7 linked regions of the Homo sapiens genome follow. The protein of the gene in region 3 purifies or fractionates together with the protein of the main gene of each other region. This does not show direct contact. Each region holds a gene or a part of one and is shown on either strand. Other genes may lie near its edges.

Region 1 (4,215 bases), on a different chromosome or scaffold from region 3:
CAGATGAAATAGCCTATACAAGCAAGCATATAAAAATGTACTTAGAACTAGGCTTTAAAATCATTGTATCACAGAGAATTAAACCAGCATGTTCAAAAGTAATCAAGCATATTCTGTTACATTGCTCTCAGTACAAAATATGACATTCTACTGATAGAATGAAAAATAATTTTTACATGATTTTAATCTTATCCTTTCAGGACTCTTTTTCTATAAATACATTTGTAATTTATTAATACAGTATCACATATAACCCAGGAAAATTATAAAACTGGTATGTAACTTATAAATATTTACATATATATATCGAGTGGTTCATCAGATTTTTTTAAATGGCGATATGTAATTTTATTGTAAAGTTCAATAATGATCATACCTGGAAAAAATCTCACAAAGATACGTAGACCCAAATGGAGGTAAATTGATCTAGACCAGTGTCTCTCAAAACTTTAAATCACCAGCATGCTTTTTTGATGATTCCATCTAAGATCTATTGAAAAAAATCCTTAGGTGTGGGAATAGGGCTATGGAGTCTGCATTTTGAGCAGATATAACAGCAAACATTTTATGGTGTTTATTGTGTTTTAAGTGCTGTTTTAAGCACTTTACATTGACTCATTCTTCACAGCAGCCCTATGAGGTATAGGTACAGGTGACTAAGAAATTTGCCCAAGGTCACCTAGTTAGAGTGTAGGGTTAGCATTGTATGTAGAAAACATACCAGAGAATTCTTTTGCATACTTTTGGGAACCATTACTCTAAGTCTAATCTAAGTCATTTGAAATTGGGAAAGCTTTATTCTATAAAATAGTAAAGTTGGGTAGGCGGGGAGAGGGTGATGCATAGTAGTACTTTCCAATTCTAAGGATTTTAAGTCTTTGTCAGTCAACACTGGGTAGCTACTTCATGGATTTTAAGTTCAGCAAAGTGAAGTCCATTTTTTAGCACCATGTTAAAGGTATGTTTTTAACAGAATCAAAGTAATGATAAGGTTTTCAGTTTTATAGATATATAGTAAAAGTGATAAAACCAAATGTGTGTAGAATGGAGATTTTTATGTTTTAATTGAATTTTGGGGTTGTCTTTAGGTTCACTGGGAGGAGAAATCTTGATTTCAATACTTGCTTTTGAAAGTCTTCTAAAGTATATTAGTATACCTTCCTACCTTGATTTATTGAACAAGATGACTCACTGTTTTGAATATTCTCATTGTCCAGTCTTCTGTAAACTTACATGTCGAACCCTAGACTCACCTTGTAAATTAAATCAGAATGAAATTATTAATGAAGTTTTATTTCTTGTTTTTTCCTTTCTCCTAGAACAGTGGTCTCAACGTGGCTGCACATACAAGTCACCAGAGAGGCTTTTAAAAGATGATATCTGTGTCCCATCCCTAGGGATTCTGATTTAATTGGTCTGATTATTCTTACGCGCTAGGGCTGAGAAACCACTGTTCTGTAGGATGTAGGGGAGGAAATTTCTTGGGCTTTTGTTGTTGCTCCCGTAAATTAGGATAATACTAAAAAAAATACTTGAGGTAGGAGTTACTAGACTATAGAGGGAATATTGTACATACATTTTCTGTCAAATTTAAACATTTAACACCTGCATTTTTTATTTCAGATTTATTGCTAAACATGGGTGCATTTTTGGATAAACCCAAAACTGAAAAACATAATGCTCATGGTGCTGGGAATGGTTTACGTTATGGCCTGAGCAGCATGCAAGGATGGAGAGTGGAAATGGAAGATGCACACACAGCTGTTGTAGGTATTCCTCACGGCTTGGAAGACTGGTCATTTTTTGCAGTTTATGATGGTCATGCTGGATCCCGAGTGGCAAATTACTGCTCAACACATTTATTAGAACACATCACTACTAACGAAGACTTTAGGGCAGCTGGAAAATCAGGATCTGCTCTTGAGCTTTCAGTGGAAAATGTTAAGAATGGTATCAGAACTGGATTTTTGAAAATTGATGAATACATGCGTAACTTTTCAGACCTCAGAAACGGGATGGACAGGAGTGGTTCAACTGCAGTGGGAGTTATGATTTCACCTAAGCATATCTACTTTATCAACTGTGGTGATTCACGTGCTGTTCTGTATAGGAATGGACAAGTCTGCTTTTCTACCCAGGATCACAAACCTTGCAATCCAAGGGAAAAGGAGCGAATCCAAAATGCAGGAGGCAGCGTGATGATACAACGTGTTAATGGTTCATTAGCAGTATCTCGTGCTCTGGGGGACTATGATTACAAGTGTGTTGATGGCAAGGGCCCAACAGAACAACTTGTTTCTCCAGAGCCTGAGGTTTATGAAATTTTAAGAGCAGAAGAGGATGAATTTATCATCTTGGCTTGTGATGGGATCTGGGATGTTATGAGTAATGAGGAGCTCTGTGAATATGTTAAATCTAGGCTTGAGGTATCTGATGACCTGGAAAATGTGTGCAATTGGGTAGTGGACACTTGTTTACACAAGGTATGTAAACTTTTTTGTCATTAAAATAACATGTTAATTTTGAAAAGTTACGGTAGGTAAAGTTAAGCTAACTTAAAATTTTAAAACTTTTAATATTTTCACAGAAGCTGTATATTTTGAAGTACTTTACCAGAAATGAAACCATTGTTTTCTTTGCCATCCTTGTTTGTCCCAGCCTTCTAATTTGAAAATTAAGCTTGATAAATTTGAGGCATTTGTTGTCATTTAAGTACTTCATAGCTTGTTGCTGTAGCAAAAGCATTTACACAGAGTGACTTTTTCTTGACATTGGCAGTAACCATCTTATGCCTGATTATGAAGCAGCTTGATAAAATATGTATATAGTAGAATTCTGTACTAGATATTACTAAAAGATCAAGAGCCATGTGAAATATTGGAAGATGTACTAGATGCCTAGCCTGTATAAAATTTAGTCCTGAGCCTCCTAGCAGTGAAGACAAAAACTGAAATAAAAATATGGGTTGTATATTTCTCATTGTCTTCTAAAAGCAGCTCTTATCTGGCAATACAATCTAAAAAGGATTTACATGTGGCTCTCTAAGTAATACATGACTTGGATAGTATCTTTTGTAGAAGATAAAATTCTTTTCATATAGATGTTTTTATTATTTCTGATTAAAAACCAAAGGCTTCTATAAAACATAATCTTGTGAAAAATTCCTGTGGAACACTAAAGTTTATTTAGATTTGTAATTTTGTATGAATCATTGCTTGATACAGTAATAGAAAAAAAGTCCAGAGTAATAGATAATTGGCAATCCTTTGAATATCTTTAAAATACTCAGTTGTTTCAAGTGGGTTTTTGACAGCATCTATATATAATTCAATTAAAATTTGAGTTATCTGGCCAGTGTCTGGAGTGTGTAAGTATTTGACTGAAAAGATACCAAGGTAAAACTGACCTTTAGTTACATGAAATAAATAAAGGGTTTGACTTATTTATTCTGTCTAGATTAGAACCACTGTATCTCCCTACTCCAAAATGTACTGTGGAAGGTATGGGCATAACCAGAAAGTTTTTCAGAAAGGATCTCTGGGTCTCTGGAAATGCCCAGATTTTGGTTAAATACCGATTTCTTTTTAATAGAATGGAAAGAGGCAGTTTTAAAAACAGAAGATTTAAAGGCCGTTCTTGTCAGTGGACAGCCTTTTTCTGAAAGGATTTTAATGATGGTACCTCTAGCTCCTCTGATTTTTATTTTTAACACACTGTATCTTTTTACTTCTGGATGAGTTAAGTAAAGAAGTATTGATGGTTGTCAGTGATCAAATAGTAAGTGGGTCTAAAATTATGTATTTGTCTTTGAACTCTAAATGAAGCAATTCTGACCTGTAGATTTTTGAGACAAGCATAGGCATATGTTTGTTGCCTGACTAGCTAATGAAAACAGCATTTTCCCCAATTATAAAAAAAAGGTATATACTTACTATTGGAAAAAAAATCCAGATGATGAAGAAAATATAGAGAAACACCCAAAATTTTGCCATCCACCCTAAGTCAGCTACTTTCATTGTTGTGGTGTATATTGTTCCAGTCTTTTCTGCCTGCCTGTGAGTGTGTGTATTTTTATAAAACCGAGATGATTATACTTGTTATTCTACAGCCTGCCTTTTCCAACAATATATTGTAGAGAGATCTCCATGCCTATAAGTATTGATCTGTATCATTTTTCTTGGCTGCGTAGTATTTTATTGAAAGAATGAGGTTGTG
Region 2 (4,663 bases), on a different chromosome or scaffold from region 3:
AGGACATAAACAGGGAAGAAAGCATGTGATCATGAGAACAGCTGAAGTTCTGAGTGAGCAATGACATGAATGGTGTCCAATTCAAAGAAAAGAGAAGGTAGATCCAGGAGCTGAATAAACAGACAGAGCAATTTTGAGAGATACATCCAGAAAGCAGAAGCACACACTTACACTTTAGCTCTGAATCCTGGCTAAAGCAACATACAGAGGCGGTAACTCCTAGAACTCTGATTTTCACTCTGTTGCCAGAGAGGCTCTTCCTGGGCAGCTGTGTGCCATGCAAATGATAGAAACAAATCCCATAGTATTGTAAGTCATAGGTTAAGGAGCAGATTTAATTTCATAAGGAGAAATAACACAATGCCAGTGTCAGCAAGAGCAAGTCTCCCCATCATCCCAAGGAGAGGAATTCTACAACCTGGGTATCTACTGGACATAATGTGGGCTCCATTCTCACAGAAGGAATCCTTTCCACTGTGGTTCTTCCTGTGTGGCTTACGCATGAGACAAGTGTAAGAAAGTGGCCATGTCAATAAGAAAATAAGCCAGCTCTTTGGTGCCAAGAAGTCTGATTTGGGGGTGCCAGCTATTTATAGGAATTGTCTAGAATTAAAATATCACCCTGCCTTGGGGATTGTGGGGCAGCTGGGGATCTTGGACATCTGCAGTATATTGCAACCACACCTGAAATTAAGAAGGACTCAATGACAATAAACATCTTTACATCACCCAGTGTCTTGAACTCACTTCCCCATCATGTAGAGCAGCTCAGGTCTTCTCTAGCTCTTCCACCTCATGATGGGTAGTGACTGCTAGGGAAGTCCTGATCATCCTAGCCCTCCAAGAAATGTTTTGAATAGCATTGCATCTTGAACTCACTATAATTTGATCAAGCAAAGATGTTCTATGTCTCTGGTCTGAAACCTGCCACCACAGCTGTGTTCTCTGCTTTCAGAGACCAGGGGAGCAGTGACTGAAGCTAAGACTACACATAGCACTTCAGACAGGCAAATTAGGAGGGAAAAGAAAACTGAATCTGTAAACTCGGGAAAAACTGGTGTATCTTTTGAGGTCCCAGCCATTTTGAGAAACTCTGATGCTGAAAAAATAAGGAAGAACAATCTGACTCCTCTCTCAAACGCTGACATTCTAGCTGAGTGTTGATTTTTTCTTAGAAAAACAAACTTTGGGTCAACAAGGAAAGATCACGAGTGGGGAGGGTGAATGGGTGATTCACCTCATGGATCTCCCTGGCAGCTCTTGCACTTCCTTGATCAATCTGTATATAAGAAATGTGCTGGGCACCTGGGACACCACTTCTCTGGGACACATTGCCTTCTGTTTTCTCCAGCATGCGCTTGCTCCAGCTCCTGTTCAGGGCCAGCCCTGCCACCCTGCTCCTGGTTCTCTGCCTGCAGTTGGGGGCCAACAAAGCTCAGGACAACACGTGAGCCATGCCCTTCTCCTCCCCACAAAAAAAATTGCAGGGAGGGCTCCTCTCCCAGTCTGGAAATTACATATCTCTTTCTGAGAATTTCTTTCAACTTCCCAGAACTCTAGTCCCAGGAGCTCCCATGGATCTCCTGCCAGGTTCCACTTCTTGTCCTCTTAGGAAGCCCCACCAACTCCTCTCACATTTTTGCTGGGTGTTTCTGCATTGCCAGTGGAAATAAAGCTCCAAATGTACCTACAGGCTGTAATTAGTAGTTAGTCTTCATCTAACATGCTGATCCACATCTTGTTCATAATTTATACCTTTGTTCAGATTTCTGCTCAGTAAACTTTACCTTCTCACACCTTGCCTCCTAGAAGAGAAGCATAACAGGTCTGTGAATTCCAATGGCAGCTTAGGGCAGCTTTGGCAGGACTGGCTAAAGGACCAGAGGCCCTGGCCACTGCCCTGTGGTCTGAGATTGAGCTAGACTGGCAGCTTAGACATTCTTCCTAACCTGAAGTCTGAAGATGAATATGATGACCTCTTGCTCTCACGTATACTGGGACCTGAGAGCACAGGTTCAGAAGTCAACTTATTGAGAACACATGTGTGAAGGAAGCAGAAAAATTGGAGCAAGTAAAATAAAGTAGAAAATGGAGCCAAGGGTCTGGGAGAAAGCAGCGATACCCAATCTAGGGAGTTTTCTCTATAGCAGTAGGGTTTATAATGCTGGGTTTCTGGGTTGTGATCTTGGAGGTACTCTCTATGGCATGGTCAGATATCCTGTCCTGGAGGAAACTGTTCAGGGTTTTGACAAGCTAATGTAATGGAGGCAAGTGTCCCAAGAAACCCTGCATGGGGACAGGTTCAGATCCCACCCCATTCCCGCCAGATGACAGTCCACTTAGCCCTGAAGGGCAGCAAGGTATTCAAATAAGCTATGCTAATTAGGTTATCAACCATCCATCCTGATTTGCCCAGAACTTTCCTGGTTGTAGCACTGCAACTCTGCCCTCCCCCGCCACCTCCACAACCCATTCTGGAAAAGACCTCAGTCCTGGGTAAACTGAGATGGTTAGTCACTCGAACTAAGCTGGTCATCCTATCAATCTGAAACTCATATACAAATGGGAGAGATTTTGAAGTTGCTTAGGTATTTATACCCTTTTCCTGTGCACTGGGCACTACAGCAGTTGGCACCAAAAAATAGAATCTCTCTAAGATGCTTTGCCCCAAGAAAATGGGGCTGTGAGACACTGTGGGCTAAGAATCTCAATTCCCTTCTGTCCCACACAATAACAAAGGTCCGTAGCCGGGAGTTTCTAGGGACGAGAAAATAACTCTCCTGGCCCCGAACCCAGTCCTCATTGACTGAAGAAGAACATTTGACCATTTTATTTGTCTCCATTTCCTTTCCTTTTCAGATTGCAGTGTATGGTCTAAATGTAGAGTAGTATCTAAAGTTCCCAAACATGGCCATATGTCCAAATTTCCTAAGGAGCTAAATAAATACAAATTCCTAAACCCTACCTGGGGACCACAGAAGGAGGATCTTCAAAGATGCTCCTACAAATACCTCCAGTGCATTGAGATGTTTGCTGGGTTTTTAAAATTTTTTATTATTTTATTTTATTTTTCCATAAGTTACTGGGGTACAAGTGGTATTTGGTTACATGAGTAAGTTCTTTAGTGGTGATGAGATTTTGGTGCACCCATCACCCGAGCAGTATACACTGCACCATATTTGTAGTCTTTTAGCCCTCACCCCTCTCCCACTCTTCCCCGCAAGTCCCCAAAGTCCATTGTATCATTCTTATGCTTTTGAGTCCTCAAAGCTTAGCTCCCACATATCAGTGAGAACATACGATGTTTGGTTTTCCATTACTGAGTTACTTCACTTAGAATAATAGTCTCCAATCTCATACAGGTCACTGCAAATGCTGTTAATTCATTCCTTATTATGGCTGAGTAGTAGTATTCCATCATATATATATATATATATATATATATATATATATATATATATATATATATACCACAGTTTCTTTATCCACTCGTTGATTGATGGGCATTTGGGTTGGTTCCACAGTTTTATAATTGTGAATTGTGCTGCTATAAACATGTGTGTGCAAGTATCTTTTTTGAATAATGACTTCTTTTCCTCTGGGTAGATACCCAGTAGTGGGATTGCTGGATCAAATGGTGGTTCTATTTTTAGTTCTTTAAGGAATCTCCACACTGTTTTACATAGTGGTTGTAGCAGTTTACATTCCCGTCAGCAGTATAGAAGTGTCCCCTGATCACTGCATCCACGCCAACATCTACTGTTTTATGATTTTTTGATTACGGCCATTCTTGCAGGAGTAAGGTGGTATCGCATTGTGGTTTTGATTTGCATTTCCCTGATCAAGAGGTTTGCTGGTTTAATGTGATTCTGTTGCTAGAAAATTTTCTCCTAATAATGACTTGAGCCCTCCTACTCAGTAGACAACCACCAGAGCCTGTAGGATGTTATCAGGAAGTGGCATGTGGTATTGTACATTTTTTCTTTTTAAAAACTTGTTTTTGGTCAATGGAAGGGAAGAAGATGCTCGTTCATTGATGGGCATTTGGGTTGGTTCCATGATTTTGCAATTGTGAATTGTGCTACTATAAACATGCATGTGCAAGTATCTTTTCTAAATAATGACTTCTTTTCCTCTGGGTAGATACCCAGTAGTGGGATTGCTGGATCAAATGGTAGTTCTACTTTTAGTTCTTTAAGGAATCTTAAAGTGTCCTAGTTGTTTTATTAAACAAAATTAAATCTGTGTGAAGTTACCAATCCAATCAACACATGAAAATTCCAGGGGATTCCAATGCTGAACAATTGATCCAAGCCCCATAATTTCCCTCCCTTGCCCATCCTGTGCCCCTTGCCCTGTTCATGGCTCCCCCCTCACTCAAAGATTGGTCTCTGATCCTGGTGTTCTGATTCTCTCTTCCCACAATCAGTCGGAAGATCATAATAAAGAATTTTGACATTCCCAAGTCAGTACGTCCAAATGACGAAGTCACTGCAGTGCTTGCAGTTCAAACAGAATTGAAAGAATGCATGGTGGTAAGTAGAGGACTGGGGGCGTGACTTCAAAAGATAATTCAACTCCTTGATTATAAACATAATTTAATCTCTCACTTTAATAATGTACAGTGTACTTAATGAAACATTCTCACTTATGTTATGCTACT
Region 3 (4,215 bases):
GGTCATGGCACACTACCTTTGAGGAAGGACTGGCTAACTTTCCTGTAGTCAGAGCTGTCCAGAGCTGCCCATGGAGGGATGATCTGCCTTGGAGTGAGGCAGTTCCATGTCTGTTGGGTGACCAGCAGTGCTCAGTGCCCCGAAGAGGATGCTGGGGTGGAGATGTTAGAGCCTGGGGGACAGTCAGAACTGAGGATTTTGGAAAGCTTTCTGATGTCACCGGAGAGCCAGCCATGCTCATCCTGTGACTAACAAACAAGGCCAGAAAGTGATGGAGGGTTCCTGTGATAGCTCCTGACCAACGGACCAACGCACAGCCTGACCCCCTAGTAGTGTGGCTCTGAAGGGAATCAGGGTCCTGGCCACTCATCATTCCCATCAAAGCACATCTGCATCCTCAAGCTTACCTATGCCTCACAAGAACCTTGGGGAGTAGAAGAGGCAGGTATTATTAGGATTCTTATTTTACAACAAAATCAAGAACCAGAGAGGGTTAGAGATTTTGCCAGAGTTGCACAGTTACTGCAAGCAAAGCCAGAATGGGTCACTCCCAATGTGCCATCCCATATAAAAAGTCCTGGTTCAGCTTGGATACAAAAGCCTTTATGTGTGGCACGTGCCTACCTTCCCTGCTTCGGTTCCCACGACGGTGTCTCCCTTCTCTCACCCCAGCCCTGCCCATGGCACACATCCCATCATATCAGCCTATACCAGCTTCAGCTTTTGACACCTAGAACAACGCGCCTCCATCCCCTCCCCTCCCCTCCAAATGGCACCTGGTGCAATCCTTCCTGTTCTTCACAGAGACCTTCCTAGGTCCTCCTATCAGATTGAATGTATTTCTGCTTCCCTTTGACATCACATTTTGCTGGTGCTTTACATTGTTGTCATGTCTGGCTCTGCCACCGGACCCTCAGGCCCAAGGGACAGAAACCACCTCTTTGTCATTTCTGCTCAGCAACACATCTGCCTCTGGATGTATCAGGCTACCTTGCAGTAGATAAAGCTACCTGCCAAGAACAACTAGAAAAGGAAGGTAAAATATTAAAAACATATGTTCGAAGACACGAGAAAGCTACCGAGGCACCAAGGACTGAAGGAACCAAGAATCCAGAGAGATGGGAAGGGCATTGAGGTGAGGCTCACTTTTGTCTCTGCTTTCCCCCGGAAGATACTCGCCAATTCCACGGCAGTGATCAACAGGCTGAGAAGCTAAGCAAAGCTGCAGGCAGCCTCCAGGGACTGGGGAGACCGGGAGTTCAGAACCTGCCAAGGACAAAGGGACCTGTTAAACAGCTCCAGGCTCTCAGATGCATTCCTGAAGAGCTGCACTCTAGAAGCCAGGGCATAGGAAGGTCTGACATTCCCATAAATGGAATCCCAAAGAAGAGGAGAGAAAGGATGTGCAGAGGAAATAATGGAAGAAATAATGGCCTAGAATTTTCCAGAATGACAAAAGACATCAAGCCCACACAGTATAGTTTACAAGGAAAACCACATCTGGGCACATCGAAATCCAACTGCAGAGAAGACAAGATAGAAAGAAAAATCTTAAACACAGGGTAGAGGAGCTGAGTTACCTTAGAAAGAGCAGCAGAAAGACTAACAGCTGGTCCCCTCAACACAAATAAGGAGACAAGACTTCAACAGCGCAACATTTTCAAAGGGCGGAAAAAAATAAGTCTGCCTAGAATCTGTGCCCAGTGAAGAGAACGAAGGTAAAATAAGGACATCCCAGATAAACAAAAGAGGAGCGAGTCTGTCACCAGAATACCCACAAGACGGAAATACTACAGGGAATTCTTCAGGCAAAAGGAAAAATCATCCCAGATGTCAGTAAGGAGGCGTAGGAAGGAATGAAGAGTATGAAGTAGGAAATGATGTAGGTAAATCTCAATGAAGATCGAGTGTGTAAAACAGGAAGAATGTCCTGTGGGGTTTAAAATACATGTATGATTAAAATGCATGGCAACTGGCTGGGTGCAGTGGCTCACGCCTGTAATCCCAGCACTTTGGGAGGCTGAGGCGGGCGGATCACAAGGTCAGGAGATCAAGCCCATCCCGGCTAACACGGTGAAACCCCGTCTCTACTAAAAATACAAAAAATTAGCCGGGCATGGTGGCGGGCACCTGTAGTCCCAGCTACTCGGGAGGCTGAGGCAGGAGAATGGCGTGAACCCAGGAGGTGGAGGTTGCAGTGAGCCGAGGTCACGCCACTGCACTCCAGCCTGGGCGAAAGAGTGAGAGTCTGTCTCAAAAAAAAAAAAAAAAAAAAAAAAAAAAAAAAAATGCATGGCAAGCGCAGCACGAAAGGCAGGAAGGCATTAAATGGAGCTCAAGTGGTTTGAGGTTCTTGTGTTGTCTGGGAAGTGGTAAAAGTACTATTGTCTATTAGACTTTAGCAAGTCTAATAAATGCATGTTGTAATCTTTATAGGAATCATTGTAAGAACCATATACTGAAAGAAAAGTACAACTAACAGGTTAATAAGGGGGTTTGGGGGAGAAATGGTAGAATTAAAAAATACTTGATTAATCCAAAATTGAAGCAATAAAACAAATAAAAAGTAACATAAAACAATTGTTACAAATAGAAAAAATATTAGATGGTGGGTTTAAACTCCAATATATCAGTAATTACATTAGATAAAATAAATACTCCAATTAAAAGACAAAGATCATCAGAACGAATATAACAAAACAATTCAGCTTTACATTTCTTTTTCTTTTTTTTTTTTGAGATGGAGTCTTGCTCTGTTGCCCAGGCTGGAGTGTGCAGTGGCGCGATCTCAGCTCACTGCAACCACTGCCTCCTGGGTTCAAGCGATTCTCCTGCCTTAGCCCCTCGAGTAGCTGGGATTCCAGGCATGTACCACCACGCCTGGCCAATTTTTGTATTTTGAGTAGAGATGGGGTTTCACCATGTTGGCCAGGCTGGTCTCAAACCCCTGACCTCAAGTGATCCATCCGCCTCAGCCTCCCAAAGTGCTGGGATTACAGGTGTGAGCCACCACGCCCAGCCCAATCCAGCTTTATATTTCTTAGAAGAGACACAGAGGCTTAATGTAAAAGGATGGAAACAGATATACCATGCGTACATTAACCAGAGGGAAACTTGTACGATCAAGCTGACCTTAACACAAGAAACATTACCAGAGACAAAAAGGGACAGTTTACGATAATGAAAGTCAATCCACCAGGATAATGTAACTCTTCTAAACGTACGTGCATAGCTTCAATATATATAAAAGAAATATTGATAGAACTAAAAGGAAAAAATAGACAAATTCATAATCAGAGTGGGAGATTTTTACACACCTCTGTCAGTAACGGATAGAAGACACAGAAAAATCCTGGGGTTGAAGATGTGAATGACATAATTAACAAACTTAACCTAATTCACAAGTTTCTATAAACTGTACTCAGCAACTGCAGAAGGCAGCTATGCTCCAGGGACACATGGAACATATAATGATACAAACATATTAAGATATTAAGATACAATGATATTATGCAGAATATGTTGTTTGACTACAACAGAATTCAGCTATAAACCATTAATAAAAGAACAAGTAGAAAATCCCCAAATATTTGGGAATGTTGGATGAGGAAATCTATTATCATGCATCTCCATCCAGCTCACAGTACTAAATTGATTTATTCATTCAACAAGAATTCATTGAGCTCCTACTATACCTCAGGCCCTGCTGGGAGTAGAGGTCTTCTTTCCCATGGAGCTGACTGCCTAGCTGGAGTTCGCCTACAAGGTATCAATGATTGTTCATGGTCTGAACTACCTGAGCCAGCGGAGGGGGGGCCTAACTTTGAATTCAGGAAGGTTTTCCTCTTCTACACTGCCTGGCAGGGTCTTGCCGTGTCACCCAGGCTGAAGTGCAGTGGCGTGATCATAGCTCACCGCAGCCTCGAACTCTTGAGCCCAAGAGATCCTCCTACTCAGCTGCCCGTGTAGCTGGAACTACAGGCAAGAGCCACCATGCCTAGCTAAGTTTTTGGGTTGCTTTTTAATTTTTAAATGTATCCATCTTGTGGAAATTAAAGACAGAAAGCCAATGAATTGCCAAAGGTCACACAGAGTGCTTGGCAAGCAGCTAACATTAATAGAGCACCCCCATGTGCAGGCACTGTTCTCAACGCTCTAGTGTTTTAATTCACTTGATGTGGTAGGCACTGTTATTATCCTTGGGAGGAAACTGAG
Region 4 (4,215 bases), on a different chromosome or scaffold from region 3:
CTCCATTTTGCAGTTGAATAAACTGAGGCACAAGGAGATTAACTTGCCAAAGTTGGTAGGTGGCAAAGCCAAAATTTGAACCAATTAGGGACTGTATTCTTAACCAATTGGCAGTGCTGCCTCTCTAAAGATAGGAGATGGGCAGATAATGTATTACATTTCCAGTGGAGAAACTGAGGCACACATTTAGTTTAGCATTTGAGTTGTAGCCACACTCTGAGTCAGTGTAGATCTTTAAGTAGTAGTTGGAATACCTAATTCCTGCTGTGCCACAAGGTCTCACTGTTTATGTAGTCTGCCAAGTGGATATCAGATAATAGATGCTTGGTCCCTGCCTGCCAGACTCTTCCAATACCAGTGACCAAAGCAGAGAAACTTCATGTGGTTCTTGACATCATGTACCCCTGCCTGCCAAACTCTTGTTTATGTTTTTGTCTATAATCAAGTTTATTCTATAAAGTTACATTTTTTTGTTATTTGTTTTGCTGTTTTAGTTTTTTCTTATTTATACAAATTAATTGTGCTAGAGAGAAGTACATTTTGTTTTCAAAAGCCAATATATATAATTTGTTCCTTAATTTGTCAGCATTTACGTGCTAAAAATGGAATGATTGGATTAAATAAATAAGAGATCCGATTATAGTCATTCTTGGAAGGTTGGTGGAGATTTTTATTTTGAAAATGTTTTCCTACTCAATGTAATAACATATTTATTGTACTTAAGGTGGCGTGGTTTAGTTCCAAAGCACTGAACAAGGATGTGGACAATCTGGGATTTATTAGCTATGTGACCTTGTGAAATCAACCTCTCAGAGCTGTTTTGTTGTGGAGATATTATTACCATCATATGCCCTTCTTCTTTTGGTATTGACTAAATGACTCAAATTTTACTTAGTAAGTAAGTTATCTTTATTTTTTTCAGGCCAATGCATATATACATTTTATCTGCACTGTCTAAAGTCGTATCTTGTAAGTGTCGTGTAACTCTGCAGGCTTTATCTGTCATGAAGTGCCTGCAGCTTGGGTTACCTAGGGACCTAGGAGCTGGCAACTGAAGCTCTTTAGTTGGGCCTCAGGAGGCCCATGGAGTGCTCTGAAATTAATAGGCTTAATGTTGTATGTATTTGTGTTTTTCTGTGGAGATGGGTTATAGCATTCATTGCATTCTTAAAGAGCTTCATGATCCAAAAAAATGAAAAAATGATCCATAGGTTTGCCATTCAAAAAAGTTTTCTTGGAGAAATTAGGTAGTTATAATAGATCATAATATGATTTTCACATGCATTGTGCCATCTTTTGTCAGGCAGTTTTCCAGTTTAATTTTTATTATTCCTACCCTTTAAGTCTTGATGTCCTTATGTTTTTCTAGATTTTTTGCTAGAAAGAAGCAGGAGATAGTAAAGCTGGAGATGGGATAAGGCAAAAGAAGTTTTGAAAGAATAGTCTCAATATGGTTTCTGAGGAAGTATCTTACCTAGTCTTATGGTTTTAGTCTGGTCCCTGTGAATGATTCCTAGCCTGTGTATCCAAGACTGGATACACAAAGACTCCAGGCTGTAAGCCTTAGAGTCATCTTTAGTGACTTCTGGACTGGGCTTCTTAGGCATTAGCTAAATTCTGTACACAGGCATTTTCCAAAGTGTGGTTGGGGTGCTTCAGGAAAAGCCATACCATGAGTAGGTTAAAGACTGAGAAGTCCTATGGTAAAGAAACCTGGTAAACTTTGCTTAACCTAGCAAACTCCAAACTTACTTGACTATTAGATTCTTTTTCTCTGTAATACATATTGCTTGTCCTTAGTACTAGTGTTTTGTAGAACATGCTTTGGAAACGTTGATATTGATTTTTTTTCACCTTTGTGTGTTTGGAAGCCATTCCCTCTGAAGCACGGGCTGCCGTGTTGTTAAGCTTCCAGGTAGGATTCACATCGTAGTCTGTGTAAATAGATTTAAAGTGTCTGTGAAAGCTGGCAGGAAAAAAGGTGAGGATTGGGCAGTAAAATAAGGAAACCAATTTATATGCATTTAGATAATTACGTGTTAGTTTATTTGTAATTATGCATCTTTCAAGGTGTTCTATTTAATATCATCATAGACTAATTCTTCCATTATAATCAGCATTTGTGAGAACCTTTCTGGAAAACTCAATTCTTAAACCTAACGGATAAGGAATATGAAGACCTTAAGCATTTAGAAAAGAACATTTGAAGGAAGCTCAAACATTGTTATTTGGAGTTATGCTCACTTCTATTTACTTCCATTTAGGATAGACTCTAATAGACTCTAGAGAGACCAGAAGAAATGGCCCTAAACTTCAGAAAGATCATTTGAAGTTGAATAAGGTAGAATTTCCCATCATCAGTTGCTATTTGAGATGAAAAGTGACAATGAAACAGGTAGCGAGGTAATTTTTCTAGAGTGTTTGAAAAACAAACAGGTTTTCTGACTTTGATGCAGATCTGATTACCTAAAGGAAGTACTTACCTCCAGCCTTTGATCTGTATATGTATTTATTGGTGAAACGTATCTAATGCATCATTTTGTATTAAGAATGAATAGTAAGTTCTCTCATGAGAGTACATTGAACAGCCATCATACATTGAACAGCTGTAATATGAGAGGAAATGTGTTATGAACTGTGAGTAGAGTAGCAGAAATGACAAGGCTTGGTACTTGGTATTTACAGGAACATAAAATGTGTACCTGCTATTAGCTGTCATAGTTTGAGATCAGAACCTTTTGGTTTCCTCATTTATATCATATTAAATCTCTTGCTGGCTGAGAGACTCTCTAGATACTCCATAATTGCACAACCGACCTCTGTAGCACAGCATAGTGATTTGAGAACAGGGTTCTGGAGCCAGGCTGCCTAGTTTCACCACCCACTAGCTTTGTCCTTAGGCCAATTACTTAATCCCTCTCTGTGTGTCTCAGTTTCCTCAGCTGTAAAATGGAGATGCTTAGAAAAGTGCTTGGGACAGTACCTGACACAAAAAAGTGTGGTCATTGTTAATTGCTGTTAGTGTCTAGAAGTATTTATTATTATGTATTTCTCCTCCTACTGTCCTTCTAACCAACTGCATTCCTCATGCTTTGCCTCAGGGTTTTTAGCTTGCTGTCTCTGCCTAAAATCCACCCCTCCCCACCAATATCTGTTTGGCTTGCTTCTTCGTTTAAAGTCTCAGCTCAAATGTCATCTTTTAATGAGCCTGCTCCTTTCCACCCTACAAAAAACAGCACTTCTCCCACCACTTTCAGGGATACAGTTCAGGGATGGATCCAGGTTTTACGGGACCTGAAGTTGATGCAGTTTTGGGGACCCTCATTAAGAAAACAAAACTAGAATTAAAAAAGGTATGAAAGTGAATCTTTAGAATGAGAAAAGATATCCCAACAAAATACTGTAACCTTAGGTCCCTTTCTTCTGAGACTTCCTTAGGCATTTAATCACAAATGCTCACAAAAAAATGCTTTCTGATGACTCCCTGGCTCCCTGTCTCCACCTGGAATACTCTACATGTCCCAGCAACTCTCAGCACTCATAGAGGACCATGCAAGTGAAGGGGCCTGAACTTTAAGTTTTGTTAGCTTCACAAAAAATTCAGTTGGACTCTTTACTTAATTTTTAATTATGGCATGTATCACCACATGTTTATTTGTTTATAGCCTGTCTCTTCCCACTAGAGTATAAATCCAGGAAACTGGTGATTTTGCTTTGTTCATTGCTGTATCCCCAGAGCCTAGAAGAGTAGCTGACCCATATTAGGTTCTTAATAAATATTTATGGAATGAATAAATGAACCAACACGAGAGGAACAAACCATGGCTACATGAGTTTAGAGGAAGGAGATCATTATTTCTGACTGGGAGAAATCACAGCAGGCCTTGCAGAGGAGGTGGCATTGGGCTTGACTTAGAGTTCTGGCAATAGTGGGTACAGAATGAGTTAAATGTAATGGGTTATTATTAGGTCTTAAATCTAATCAGTAGGGTTAATGTATCTTTGGCATATTAAGCAATGTTCATAATTGTTATATGCATATGAAGATACTCCGTCATTTTGAACTAAATACCCCTAGTGACTGACTAGTGAATACAGCAGTAGGCTATCACATATGACTTTTATTTTGTTTTTTTTAAAATACGATTAAATTGGGCTTTTAGGAAGAGGACTTTGTTCACCAATACAAAAAAAACCTTCGATTCAAGAGATGAA
Region 5 (4,215 bases), on a different chromosome or scaffold from region 3:
GTTTTCCAATGCCATTTATAATTTCTTAAGACACTGAATCTAGATTAATGTTGGCTGACTGGATAGCAGATTCAATTTTCAACAACCAGTACAAGTTTGATATTTTATACTTGACAGTATATACAGAATACATACATTTTGTTCTTCTTTAAGTGCTTCTTCTAGCTGAGCTGCAAATTGCGAACAATATGTCAAGAATGAATTCATATCATCCCCAACCTTTTGAAAAGAATAATAAAACATAAAGTTACATTTAAGAATCCATATGCATGTCTGTCTTTTTCTAGCATATTTACTTTTTGAAAAATTTTAATTTTGTGTAATTTATGTCCCTTCAAACATTTACAGCAAGAAGCCATGCTTCAAATGCCATACTAGCAAATTCTCCCAAAGAAAAAATATGAAAGAAAGTACACTTTGGGAAGTGGCCCATCAGTGACATATACCCAGCCATGTCTCTCCTCTCATTCATCTCTACACAGTTCCAGAAAATCCAGCATCCCAGCCTCATAGTACTGAAATTTCTGGGTGGCCCAATAAAAGGTAATCATTACCATAAAAAAAAAAATCTCTTGGTGTTAGAAAATGACTACTACCTATGATACCTAACTGTATAATTGCCATGAACTGCAGTCTTCTGCTCTCACCTAATGGGCAATACACAACTTTGAGGAAAAAATAGTTACAGCTTAAATGTCATAACGATCAAATCCCTTCTAGTAAAGCAGTGATTCGTAAATCAGAGAATTGACTCATGATAAACAAATATTACAGGCTTATATACAGTTAGGATTTTCATAGAGTGGTTCTCCATGAAGAATATATTCCCTGAGCATTACATTTAAAGATACTGAGCCAGGCGCGGTGGCTCACACCTGTAATCCTAGCACTTTGGGAGGCTGAGGCAGTTGGATCACTTGAGGTCAGGAGTTCAAGACCAGCCTGGCCAGCATGGCAAAATCCCGTCTCTACTAAAAAGACAAAAAAATTAGCTGGGCGAGGCGCCGCACACCGGTAATCCCAGCTACGTGGGTGGCTGAGGCACGAAAAGCGCTTGAATCCAGGAGGCAGCAGTTCCAGTGAGCCAAGATCACACCACTGCACTCCAGCCTAGGTGACACAGCGAGACTCTGTCTCAAAAAAATAAAAATAAAATAAAATAAATAAATAAATAAATAAATAAATAAATATGCTGAGAGGCTCACATACTTCTTGTCACAATAAAGACCTATAATCATATAGGAGACGGGGAAAAAAAACTAAATCATCCAGCAGAGAGGAAAATGAACAGATTAGTGTTACTAATCACAAATATAAAGAGAAACTATTAGCCTACTTCTTCCACCCACATTCAGGTGCCACAAATATAGAGAAGATAGAGAAATACAGAGAAGATAGAAATTGATTTGACCAAGTTTATAATGTAACCAAATGAGACCAATAAAGCAGAACAGGGCAAGAGAGTTAAGTACGTGTGAAAGGGAGTGATGATAATAGTGGACCATGCTATTTAAGCTGGGTAAGTAAGGGCACAAGGAGGATTTCGGACACTAAAAAGGCAGCAAGACCAATGGATTATGTTTCCCTGTGAAATCAAAGGATTTTTGGAGACAGAATATTGGACAGACTGAGTGGGAAAGACAGGAGGTGGTGGCCACAGATTAGGATGACTGAAATTCAAATTATGAAACAGTTATGGTAAGGACTACAGGATATCACTTTGTCCATTAGTGGTTGATGTGAAATAAAATACAAGATCATTGGAGGAAAGAAATTCAGTAAAATAAAGGGGATATCCGAAGGGCTGATTTCTTCAATTTTGTCAGTATTGGAGACCACAGGAAAGTGAACTTAATTTCATTTTATTTTATTTTTTTGGTGGTTTTTTTTTTAACTTTTGTTTTAGATTTAGTGGGTACATGTGCAGGTTTGTTACCTGGATATACTGCGTGATGCTGAGGTTTGGGGTACCAATGATCCCGTCACCCAAGTACTGAGCACAGTACCCGATAGCTAGTTTTTCAACCCTTACCCCGCCTCCCTCCCACCTCTAGTCATCCCAGTTTCTATTGGACTTCAATTTCAGATTTTAGTTTTGGTTCTTTGATTCATTCCTGGCAGGGCTTCAAAACATAATAACCACAAGGTCATGCAGGATAAGGATTGTGATTACATAGTCCTTTTAATAGTTGGGTAATCACCACCACAATAAAAATATAAAACATTTCCATCATTTCAAAAAGCTTCACTGTACTCCTTTGCAGTCAATTCTCCCCTCCTACCTTAGCTCAAGACAAACACTGGTCCTTTACTACAGTTTTCCCTTTCCCAGAATTTCATATAAATAGAATCATATGATATGTAGCCTTATTTATTTAGCTTCCCCACATCCTAATGTTTTTGAGATTCATCTACATTGTTCTATGTGTCAGTAGTTTGTTCCCTTTATTGTGAAGAGTATTTCATTGTATGCTATACCACAATTTGCTTATCCATTCACCAGTTAGTAAATATTTGGGTTGCTGGATTCAGTAGCTATTCTGGCAGTTACGAACGAAACTTCTATAAACATTTATATACAAGACTTTGTGAGGATGTATGTGTTCATTAATCTTGGATAACCACTTAAGAGTGGAATTGGTGGTTATCTTTTAAGTATATGTTAAACTTTGTGAGCAGCTGTCAAACTGTTTCTCAACATAGCAGTACCATTTGTGTTCCCACCAGCTCTGTATGAGAGTTCCTGTGGCCCCATATCTTTACTAAAATGTGATTATTCTCTATCTTTAAAATGTTGGTCATTCCTAATGGGTATGTAGAACTCCTTTTCTGCAAACTTCTTGGCAAAATTCAGGTCAAGAGGGATTTGGTTGGGTTGAGTAATTTTCTAAGAGGATCATTTTCATGGATGGGAAATTCATTCTGAGGATATAATAAGTACTCCAAAAGAAAATATTTTAAATTTATATTTTTAAAAAGAAAATCGACCCTTTTCAGTGTTAATGTCTCTATATTAGGGTTGCATATACTTACAGATAAAGATAATTCTTCATGTTCATGCTTTACAAATGGTTCTTCTCCATTCTGATCGCAATGTCCATAGGTTTCTTCCAAAGTGGAAACAACCTGTAAAAAAAAAATAAAAGCCAATTAGATACTTTAATAGTTTAAAATTAATTATATTAAATGTAAATAATATTTAATCAATTATGCCAGGACCTTTTTACCAGTAAGACTTATTTCTTCCAGTGCCATAAACTTAAATTTTTCATCCCATACCCAATTTCATGTCATCATGAGGAGAAAGCAATATTCCTTAACCCTACTCCCTAGCAATAGAGAGATGCTCTATGACTCTACCATTTCTGTGTTGATAGCTATCTTAAAACGGAGAGGGCCTGTCCATGAGTGGTTGAAGCATTAAGTAGAGTTTTCCTCAAAGTCTGCCTTGACTTTCTCCTCTGAAGAGAGTTAGGGGAAATAGAAAGATGGAGACCAGAAAGCAATGAATTTTTAAAGAAAATTATCTGGCCTAACCCCTCAAACTTTCAACAAACTTGTACTGTACAAGTTTGATGTACTATATATTTTTTTATATTTGTGCTCTTCCTCATTGTTATTTGGTACATTTACAATTCAATTCTGGATTGCAGTGAAAAAAATAGAAACTCAGAGAAAGGAAATTTTTTCCCCACATCAAGAGCTAAAGTTTCAGCCAGGCATGGTGCTCATGCCTGTAATCCCAGCACTTTGGGAGGCCAAGGCGGGTGGATCACCTGAGGTCAAGAGTTTAAGACCAGCCTGACCAGTATGGTGAAACCCCATCTCTACTAAAAGTACAAAAATTAGCCAGGCATGGTGGCATGCTCCTGTAGTCCCAGCTACTCGGGAGACTGAGACAGGAAAATTGCTTGAAACCTGGAGGCAGAATTTGCAGTGAGCCAAGATCATGCCACGGCACTCCAGCCTGGGCGAAAGAGCGAGACTTCATCTCAAGAAACGAAAAAAGAGCTAAAGTTTCTGAAATGCAGAGTTTAACATAGTAGAAATGCAGGACTTAGGAAGGCCTGCTTGCAAGGTTGGCCTTAACCTGGCATCTGAGATCCTGGATTTCAGGAGGGTTCTCCCCATTCACTGATAGAAGCAGCTCACTGTCCCTAAACTGTTTGTATAACATTGTTTATACTGAACCTCCTTTCCTTGTGAGAGTCTGAA
Region 6 (3,775 bases), on a different chromosome or scaffold from region 3:
ATCAAGCAGAGATAGACAAATATTGTGTGTTTTCACTCATATGTAGGAGCTGCAAAATTTGATCTATAAATGTAGAGAGTAGAATGATAGATACCAGAAGCAGGGAAGGGAGTTCAGGGGATGGAGAATGATAAAACACTGGCTAATGAGTACAAACATAGAGATATATAAAAGGAGTAAGTTTTAATATTTGATAGCAGAGTAGGGTGACTACAGTTTACAACAACATATTGTATTTTTCAAAATAGCTAGAAGAGAGGAATTAAAATGTTTCCAACAAAGACAGAAATGATAAATGCTCAAGGTGATGAATGCCCTAAATTTCCTAATATCCCGGCTTTATCATTACACATTTGATCCATGTAACAATATATCACACGTATCCCAAAAATGTGTATAAGTATTAGGAACCAATAAAAACAGAGTCTTCGATAGCATTAGGAGTTATACCTAATGCTAAATGACGAGTTAATGGGTGCAGCATACCAATATGGCACATGTATACATATGTAACAACCCTGCATATTGTGCACACGTACCCTAAAACTTAAAGTATAATAATAATAAAATTTAAAAAAAAACAGAGTCTTCTTATTTTTTATATTAGTTACATCCAAGCCACTCTATTGCTGGAACAAATATGGTAGTGGTTGTCATGGGGAGTGATGATGATGATGATGATGATGGTGGTGGTGGTGGTAATGGTGGAAACAATGATGATATGTTACTGCCAATAAACTTCTAAAATGACAGCTAATTATGTGTCAGGCATTGCGACAACAAAATTTCAGATAGTAATTAGATTTATCCCAAGACTAGTTTGTTAAGTAAATGTTATTTTGGTCGCTTTGCAATAAAGAGATTGACATTCACAGAAGTTGAATAATATGTTCCTCAAATCAATCAAACACTAATTAAGGAAAATAAAAGTGGTTTAAATAATACAGACATAATCTTTGATATGACCCAAATTTTAAGATTCTGACTGTGGTTGAAAGAAAGGTGGAAATAAACCCAAATGATTATATAATTTTACTAATAAAGCAGATTTGAAAAGAAACAAAAGATCCATTCACAAATACGTATGCAAAGATATTTTATTCAGGGAGTGAAAGAAAAGTGACAATTGCACAGGTGTTAGAAGCCCATGCCCAGGTGACAGACAGACACAGAAAACATCAACAGCATTTTTTGATGGTTCCCAGGGACAGAGCTGCTGGTCCTTCTTCCAAAGCTCTGGGAACTGACACTGCTGAGGACTTCCTTTCTCAGTCTCCACCTGGACAGTGGCAATATGGCAGCCTCAGAAAGGAAACCTTTTGCTATCAGGGATCATCATGGGCAGATCACTGGCTAAGAGGAAAGAAGCTAACTGTGTATCCATGGTAGGCTTTGATGAGAAGATGCAGGTGAAGCTGTGGAACAAGGTGAGCCAATTATCCTTATCCTTTCATGCTCCTGATGAATTCTGAAGCTGTTACTTGCTCTTGGGTGGACACTTTGGCTGGCAGGGTGGGGAAGGTGTCACAGGAGGACATTTTTGCTGGCACTGCTGAGGTGGGCAGGGCTGTGGACACTTTGGTGGTGGGCAGGGCTCAGGGCACTTCGGGGGTGGACATGGCTCTGGGCACTTTGGCGTGGGGCACACAGGAGGTGGCTGGCAGGGCTGCTTGCACTGCTGCTGTTGATAAGACATCCTGCTGGAGTCTCAGAATCTGAAAGAAATGATATGACAGTGTTCACAGGAATGGACTCCTCCAGAGAGAGAAGCCAAAGCTTATGTAATACCATGGCATATTATTTCTCCAATCTCCAAAAATTTATTTAAACTCTTAGCTCTCTTTTCATGACTTCCTGTCTTCTCCTTTCCACTTTAGCAAGTTGTTTCATCAGCCCTAGGAATTCCTGCCTTTCCTCATACAATTTTTCCAAAGAAAACATCTCTATAATAAAGAAGCAAGCATGTTATTCCATGAAAATGACATCTTCAGGAAAGGCAGTCACAAGTTCAGACCTCCTGGGCAATCTCACAAGCTATTCCTATCATCATTATCTGTTGTAAAGCACCAGTGGGTTGACTTGGGCACAGAGCAAGGGCTGTTCAGGAAGAAGTACTGGCTCTCACACCTGCTAAGACACAAACCTTTGAAAAGGATACCAGGAAAATATGGAAAAGAGAAAAATACTTCATCCCTTTCTTCAAACCAAAACTTTCCTATTAACTTCTCTGTCCATATGGACATATAATTGTACATTTTTTAAAAATCTGTGTAAAACACTGTATCATGTAATCTAATCCTGTAGTTCCATCAACTAAGTACCATCAAACCTATGATCACAGGTTTGGATCCACCAAACTTGCTGGATTCAGGTTAAATTCAACACTTCAGGGCACAAAGAACAGAGGAACTCAAGGAAGCAGACTCACCAGGTTCTCCAAAGCAGATCAGTGCTCAAGTACCAGGAGTTTAGGAGTTGTAGAGCAGAGAACCTCTTTATAGGGCCTGCTACCCCACCCAGCAGGAAGTGGAACTACCCAAAACTGGGCTGGCCCAGCAATGTCCCAACTAAAATGCAAATCTATCCATAACTGGCATGACAGGGATTCTCAAACTGGGAAATATCCTGTTCTGGGATCTTTCCACTGGATTAAGTGCCCTGACTCACTGAGGCCCTGCCTTAGATCTCAGTTTCAGTGACAGCAAAGAGGGACTTGGGGGATTCTCTAACTGGTGGTCAAGGGCTCTCTTTCTTGATTGGGGGCAATGAATGCTTCCTGTCTTACACATTCCCTAAATCATAAAACTTCCTGCCCTGATCCACTTTAGCTGAATGCCATATTGTTTGTACATGAACCCATCTCCACCTCTACTTTCCTTGTACAATTTGCCAATGTGCTAGAAGGAAGGAGAGACCTAACAAAGGCCTGAGTTCTGGCCCCAGATTTTTTTGCTAAGCTGTATGACCACAGCCAGGTCAACTCTCCTCCCTGGAACTGTAAACAGAAGAGCATCTTATTTACCTCTGGGTTTGGAGGCACTGACCACATTGTGCCATCTGTTGATCCTGTTCAAGCCTGAAATTTTCTGCTCCACCTCTTTCTCTTGCAGAAACCCAGATTTTACCTATATTCCTTTCCTCTTTGAGGGTTGTCTTCTACAACCCTCAAAGAGGCACTTGTGTCCCAAGATAGATACCAGAGTGAGATCCAGTCTCTCCAGTACATTTGCCACTGCTACCATCAAGGGAGTGTACTACAGGCTTTTCATTTGTAAAACTGTACTCTTATTCACCACATTAAGAAAATGGAGAAAAGGGAACCAAAGTTACAAGCATTCATTTTAAATCTATGTATTGAACCATGCCTGTATGTTTCCCTGTGAACATCATATAGAGAACAAGATGCATAGACTCACAGTATCTTATGTAAATAATTAGAAGTTTTCCAGAATAGAGGTCAGAGCACTTAAAGTCTGAAATCTAGGGGAAAATATAAACTCAGTGTGATCCTATGTGTTTGCTTTCTCTACCTCTCTTTCCAAACAGGTTTTAGTCTTTGAAAAATGGTATTTTTTAATTTGTTTGTATGTTCTTCCATTGTCTTTTCCAAAAGCTCTCTAGCCCCACAACCTGCTAGATTATCAACTCACACCCCAATGTATACCTCTCATCTGTTCATTTTAGTACACATTGTTCACTCGATACGTATGTTGTCAATGTGAATGTCTTTCACATCTTTTTAAAACTCTTCCTGCAATCAATGGGGCTTACTAAA
Region 7 (4,215 bases), on a different chromosome or scaffold from region 3:
TGCAATGTATTCGCCTATTTTCTCAGTTCTAGCATATACATAAAATAATTTCAGAATTGTTGACCTATACCCCTGTGGAAAACAATATACTAACTAGAGTGCAGTATTTGGGTATAATTCTTATAAAGACCCTGTGATTGCATGGGCTTACCTGGATAATCCAGGATAACCTCTCCATCTCCAGAGCCTTAACTTAATCACACCTGCAAAGTCTCTTTTGCTGTGTAAAGGAACCTAGTCACAGGTTCCAGGGATTAGGACATGGACATCTTTGGAGGGCCATCATTCTGTCTACCATGGAGGGATATGGGTTGGGTTTAAATGTCAGCATTCCCGAACCCAGCATGAGAAGGGAGACAGTCCCAAATTCAATATGTAAACTTTTACTGAGCCCATCAACTTTCTGTACAGTGCTTCATTCCCACTCTCAGCTGGGCCTGATATGCAAGAGTCTACTATGAGCTCTTGACTCAGTTCCTGCTAAGTGTAAAGCTCGTCTTCTGCCGGGGTGGAGGACAGTGAGGGAGAAGGAACTATGGGAGGTCTCACTGTCCTTCATACAGATCAGTCCTCTTGCTTTTGGTCTGAGACCTTACTCCTGGCTACGACTTTTTGGTGTTGCTCATGCCTGCGCCATTGTGACGTTCTGCAGTGTGAATCTGCTTGCTTCTGGCTTAGACTTTCCCCTCTATGGGCTTAGCTTCTGTTTAGACTGCTCAGCATTTTCCATTGTTCATCTGTTTTCCAACTTCCAAAATTTTATTGGTATTTCTGAGGTGGTACTTGCCTATCTCCTGTTGTCTTTATGTCTGTGGATTTGTCCTTCAACCCCAATTCTTTTCTGTCTTTTGGAGGAAAAAGGATATAACTCTCTGTGTTGAATGTACCTTGTTTATTGAGAACTTGCTTTTATGCCCTTCATGAAAGCATTGCATGTCCATACAACTTCAATCAGGCCTCCAGTCCATCTAGGATTCTCCCAAGGCAGTCCTTCCTATCAGTGGGCAGGTTTTTTTTGTTTTTTGTTTTTTTAAATTTAAGAGACAGAATCTCCCCCTCACCCAGGCTGGAGTGCAGTGGCGTGATCATAGTTCACTGCAGCCTCGAATTCCCGGACTCAAACAATCCTCCCTGGGCAGATGTTTTGAACCTTTACTACTGATGCCTCAGTTTGAGTACCAGAACTGTTTTCAAAGATGTAGACATATGCAAACTGTGAGTTCTCAGACCATTTCTGAAAGGCCAAACACTCCACGGACCACCACTCAGTTCTCCTGTAACCTTGAGAATAGACGGGAAAAGTGTGATTGTTCTGTTGAGATGGAAATGAAATTTCAAAGTGGAGAAAGGGAGAAGACAAATAGTGAGGACAAACCAGAAGTGGGAAGAGCTAGGGGCAGGAGAGCGGAGAAAGGATGCACAGAGAAGTAGAGTAAGGAAACAGGTTATTGTCTTAGGGTCCCTTTCCAAAGCCTTTCAAAATTCCAAAGGAGGGATGGCCAGTACTTGGCACCAGTCAAGTTAGGAGCTGAGTTTGAAAGAGTTAATCTCTACACTAACCCCCAAAGTATCCATTTAAACCTCATTTTATGAATGGAGAATGTAAGGCTATGAGTTGAGCATGACTGCTTAAAGTTGAAAAATTATTCAACATAGTTATTTTAAAGTCCTTGCATGATAACTTATATATCTGATCTGTGTTCCTTCTGCTTTTCAGTCATGTTTCTTTTTAAGCACGTATCCTAAGCCAACCAGCCTTTCTTTTCTTTTCTTTCTTTCTCTTTCTTTCTTTCTCTTTCTTTCTTTTTCTTTCTTTCTCTCTCTCTTTCTTTCTTCTTTCTTTCTTCCTTTTTTCTTCCTTTCCTTTCCTTTTCCTTCCTTCCTTTCCTTTCCTTTTCCTTCCTTCCTCTCTCTCTCTTTCTTCTTTCTTTCTTTCTTTCTTTCTTTCTTTCTTTCTTTCTTTCTTTCTTTCTTCTTTCTTTTCTTTCTTTCTTCTCTCTCTCTTTCATGGAGTCTTGCTCTGTCACCTAGGCTGGAGTGTAGTGGCACAATCTCAGCTCACTACAACCTCTCCCTCCTGGGTTTAAGCAATTCTCCTGCCTCAGCCTCATGAGTAGCTGGGACTACAGGCATCTGCCACCACTCCCAGCTAATTTTTTATATTTTTGGAGAGATGGAGTTTCACCATGTTTGCCAGGCTGGTCTCAAACTCCTGGCCTCAGGTGATCCACCCACCTTGGTCTCCCAAAGTGCTGGGATTACAGGGGTGAGCCCCCATGCCTGGCCCTAAGTTTTTATTTCTATCTGTCCTAGAAATATATCCAAATCTTTAACTTTTCCATCGTATCTGTGTAATCCACAAATGCAGAATTTTCCATGAGAGAGGGGATTTAAAAGATCTGGTTTGTTTCTTGAAGTGTTCTGGCACCTGTCAGACTGTGGACCTTGATTTCTGGTTCACTCTACTTGTAACTTGCAGCCTCCCTCCCTCTTCCCAGTAAAATAGATTTGCATGGTTTAATGTTAGATGACATGGACCTGAGTGATGAGATTTGAGCTGAGGAGCAGGGAAAGGGGCAGAGTAGGGGAGCTTGTCAGTGAAACTTAAGTCTCAGAAGGTAGCTTGGTGCTGAAAGACTCCCCAGGATGGGCACTAGGAGGATGCAGGCCAGCTGGGAACGGTGGTGGGAGACTGGCGGTGAACGGACACATCTCCTGCTGAATGCAGTTGGCCTTCACCTTTCTCAGTCTGCCACGCGTGATGGTGACGGGAGCTCAAGGAATACAGTGGAGGTTTGTCGCTTGGTCTCCAGCCGGGGAGGAGGCTACCAGGGAGAAGCACCTGGTATAATGCATTTAACCCAGAGTTCTTCAAGCATTTCTCATTGCTACTGAGCATGAATCTTGGTGAGGTGTTTATTCTCTGAGATCTGAGGATTTGAGCCATGAGGCACCCAACACTCAGGCTTTTCCCCTAATCTGTAGTCATTCTACAGAAACAATAGGACTGTGCCTAATTTAATAGAAAATAGATAGAAAGATATTGATGGCAAAGTGGATGAATTACATTTGGGGGAGATTTAGAGAGTAAGGAAGGAGAGTTTGAATAGTAACATGAAAGGACAGTAGGGCCAGTAAGATGTGACTTGTGGACATTTATTGTCTAAGTATGTTTTGAAGGAAGAAGGAAGTATGGGACAAGGCATTGAGGATGCAAGAAATGAAGTCACCTGGCTAAGAGAGGAAGGACTGGCTGAAGAGAGGAGAATAGAGTCTAGGGAGGAATGAGATCCAGCAAGAGATAGGGTCAGCTGGGGCATTTTCTTACCAGAGATCTGCAATCTCCTAAGACAGGTGTTCCCAACCCCTGGGCTGCAGACCAGTACCCATCCATGGCCTGTTAGGAATCGGGCTGCACAGCAGGAGGGGAGCAGTGGGCCAGTGAGCATTATGGCCTGAGCTCCGCCTCCTGTCAGATTAGCGGCAGCATTAGATTCTCATAGGAGTGGGAACCCTATTGTGAACTGCATGCAAAGGATCAAGGTTGCGTGCTCCTTATGAGAAAATAATGCCTGATGATCTGAGGTGGAACAGCTTCATCCCAAAACTATCCCCTCCACCCCATCTGTGGAAAAATTGCCTTCCACAAAGGTACCAAAAAGGTTGGGGACAGCTGGCCTAAGAAGAGTAGGAACTGAGACATCCTGCTGGAGGGACCATGGGGGTGGGAGGCAATGAACAACTGAAGAGAGATTTACATTTGTGGGGTTTCTAGAAAAAGACCAACAAATATGACTGCAAGAATGTTCTGGCAGCCCTGGGTCCTGTCCGGGTTGTTAAGCATTAATCCACAGGTTTGTAATGGTGAGTTTTCTGTGGTTCTGCACCTCGCTTTGGCAAAGTTCTTTGATTCTGGAACAGTAGTAGCTGCATAGAAAGTGGTGGCAGTGGGTGTGACCTTTAATTGAGAATTAGAATGTCAGGAGCTCCCAGGGTCAAGGAAATCATCATGAGTGGAGGAGTATTTGAAGCTACCCTCCTGTCATGGGGTCCAGGCTGGATGAGAGACTCAGTGGGCCTGGGCATGTTCTCATGAAGTTGGGAAGGTAGGTGCCTGAAGGATTCTGGTGTGGCTGAATGACAGGTTCTTTGGGTGTGGGACAGTGGGAGAGGCGACTAATAAGGAGGCTGTGGTCAGAGAGGGGAATGCAAATT

The links.
Region 1: the proteins of LOXL2 (region 3) and PPM1B purify together in Homo sapiens (affinity purification with mass spectrometry, with the first as the bait; one large-scale study listed by BioGRID). This does not show direct contact.
Region 2: the proteins of LOXL2 (region 3) and PIP purify together in Homo sapiens (affinity purification with mass spectrometry, with the first as the bait; one large-scale study listed by BioGRID). This does not show direct contact.
Region 4: the proteins of LOXL2 (region 3) and MAP4K3 purify together in Homo sapiens (affinity purification with mass spectrometry; 2 studies listed by BioGRID and IntAct, with this or other methods). This does not show direct contact.
Region 5: the proteins of LOXL2 (region 3) and CCDC7 purify together in Homo sapiens (affinity purification with mass spectrometry, with the first as the bait; one large-scale study listed by BioGRID). This does not show direct contact.
Region 6: the proteins of LOXL2 (region 3) and SPRR2E purify together in Homo sapiens (affinity purification with mass spectrometry, with the first as the bait; one large-scale study listed by BioGRID). This does not show direct contact.
Region 7: the proteins of LOXL2 (region 3) and CSTA purify together in Homo sapiens (affinity purification with mass spectrometry, with the first as the bait; one large-scale study listed by BioGRID). This does not show direct contact.

Annotation. Positions count from the first base shown.
Region 1 is NC_000002.12:44,199,563-44,203,777, forward strand, and holds part of PPM1B (protein phosphatase 1B), read left to right. Parts: intron 1-1,623; 5' UTR 1,624-1,637; coding exon 1,638-2,483; intron 2,484-4,215.
Region 2 is NC_000007.14:143,130,765-143,135,427, forward strand, and holds the start of PIP (prolactin-inducible protein precursor), read left to right. Parts: upstream 1-1,312; 5' UTR 1,313-1,352; coding exon 1,353-1,447; intron 1,448-4,429; coding exon 4,430-4,535; intron 4,536-4,663.
Region 3 is NC_000008.11:23,369,497-23,373,711, forward strand, and holds part of LOXL2 (lysyl oxidase homolog 2 precursor), read right to left. Parts: intron 1-4,215. UniProt on the Homo sapiens protein: Mediates the post-translational oxidative deamination of lysine residues on target proteins leading to the formation of deaminated lysine (allysine).
Region 4 is NC_000002.12:39,430,552-39,434,766, reverse strand, and holds part of MAP4K3 (mitogen-activated protein kinase kinase kinase kinase 3), read left to right. Parts: intron 1-4,215. UniProt on the Homo sapiens protein: Serine/threonine kinase that plays a role in the response to environmental stress. Appears to act upstream of the JUN N-terminal pathway.
Region 5 is NC_000010.11:32,452,255-32,456,469, reverse strand, and holds part of CCDC7 (uncharacterized protein C10orf68), read right to left. Parts: intron 3,127-4,215; coding exon 3,034-3,126; intron 220-3,033; coding exon 136-219; intron 1-135. UniProt on the Homo sapiens protein: May play a role in tumorigenesis.
Region 6 is NC_000001.11:153,092,056-153,095,830, forward strand, and holds SPRR2E (small proline-rich protein 2E), read right to left. Parts: upstream 2,472-3,775; 5' UTR 2,429-2,471; intron 1,716-2,428; 5' UTR 1,697-1,715; coding exon 1,478-1,696; 3' UTR 1,080-1,477; downstream 1-1,079. UniProt on the Homo sapiens protein: Cross-linked envelope protein of keratinocytes. It is a keratinocyte protein that first appears in the cell cytosol, but ultimately becomes cross-linked to membrane proteins by transglutaminase.
Region 7 is NC_000003.12:122,331,300-122,335,514, reverse strand, and holds part of CSTA (cystatin-A), read right to left. Parts: intron 1-4,215. UniProt on the Homo sapiens protein: This is an intracellular thiol proteinase inhibitor. Has an important role in desmosome-mediated cell-cell adhesion in the lower levels of the epidermis.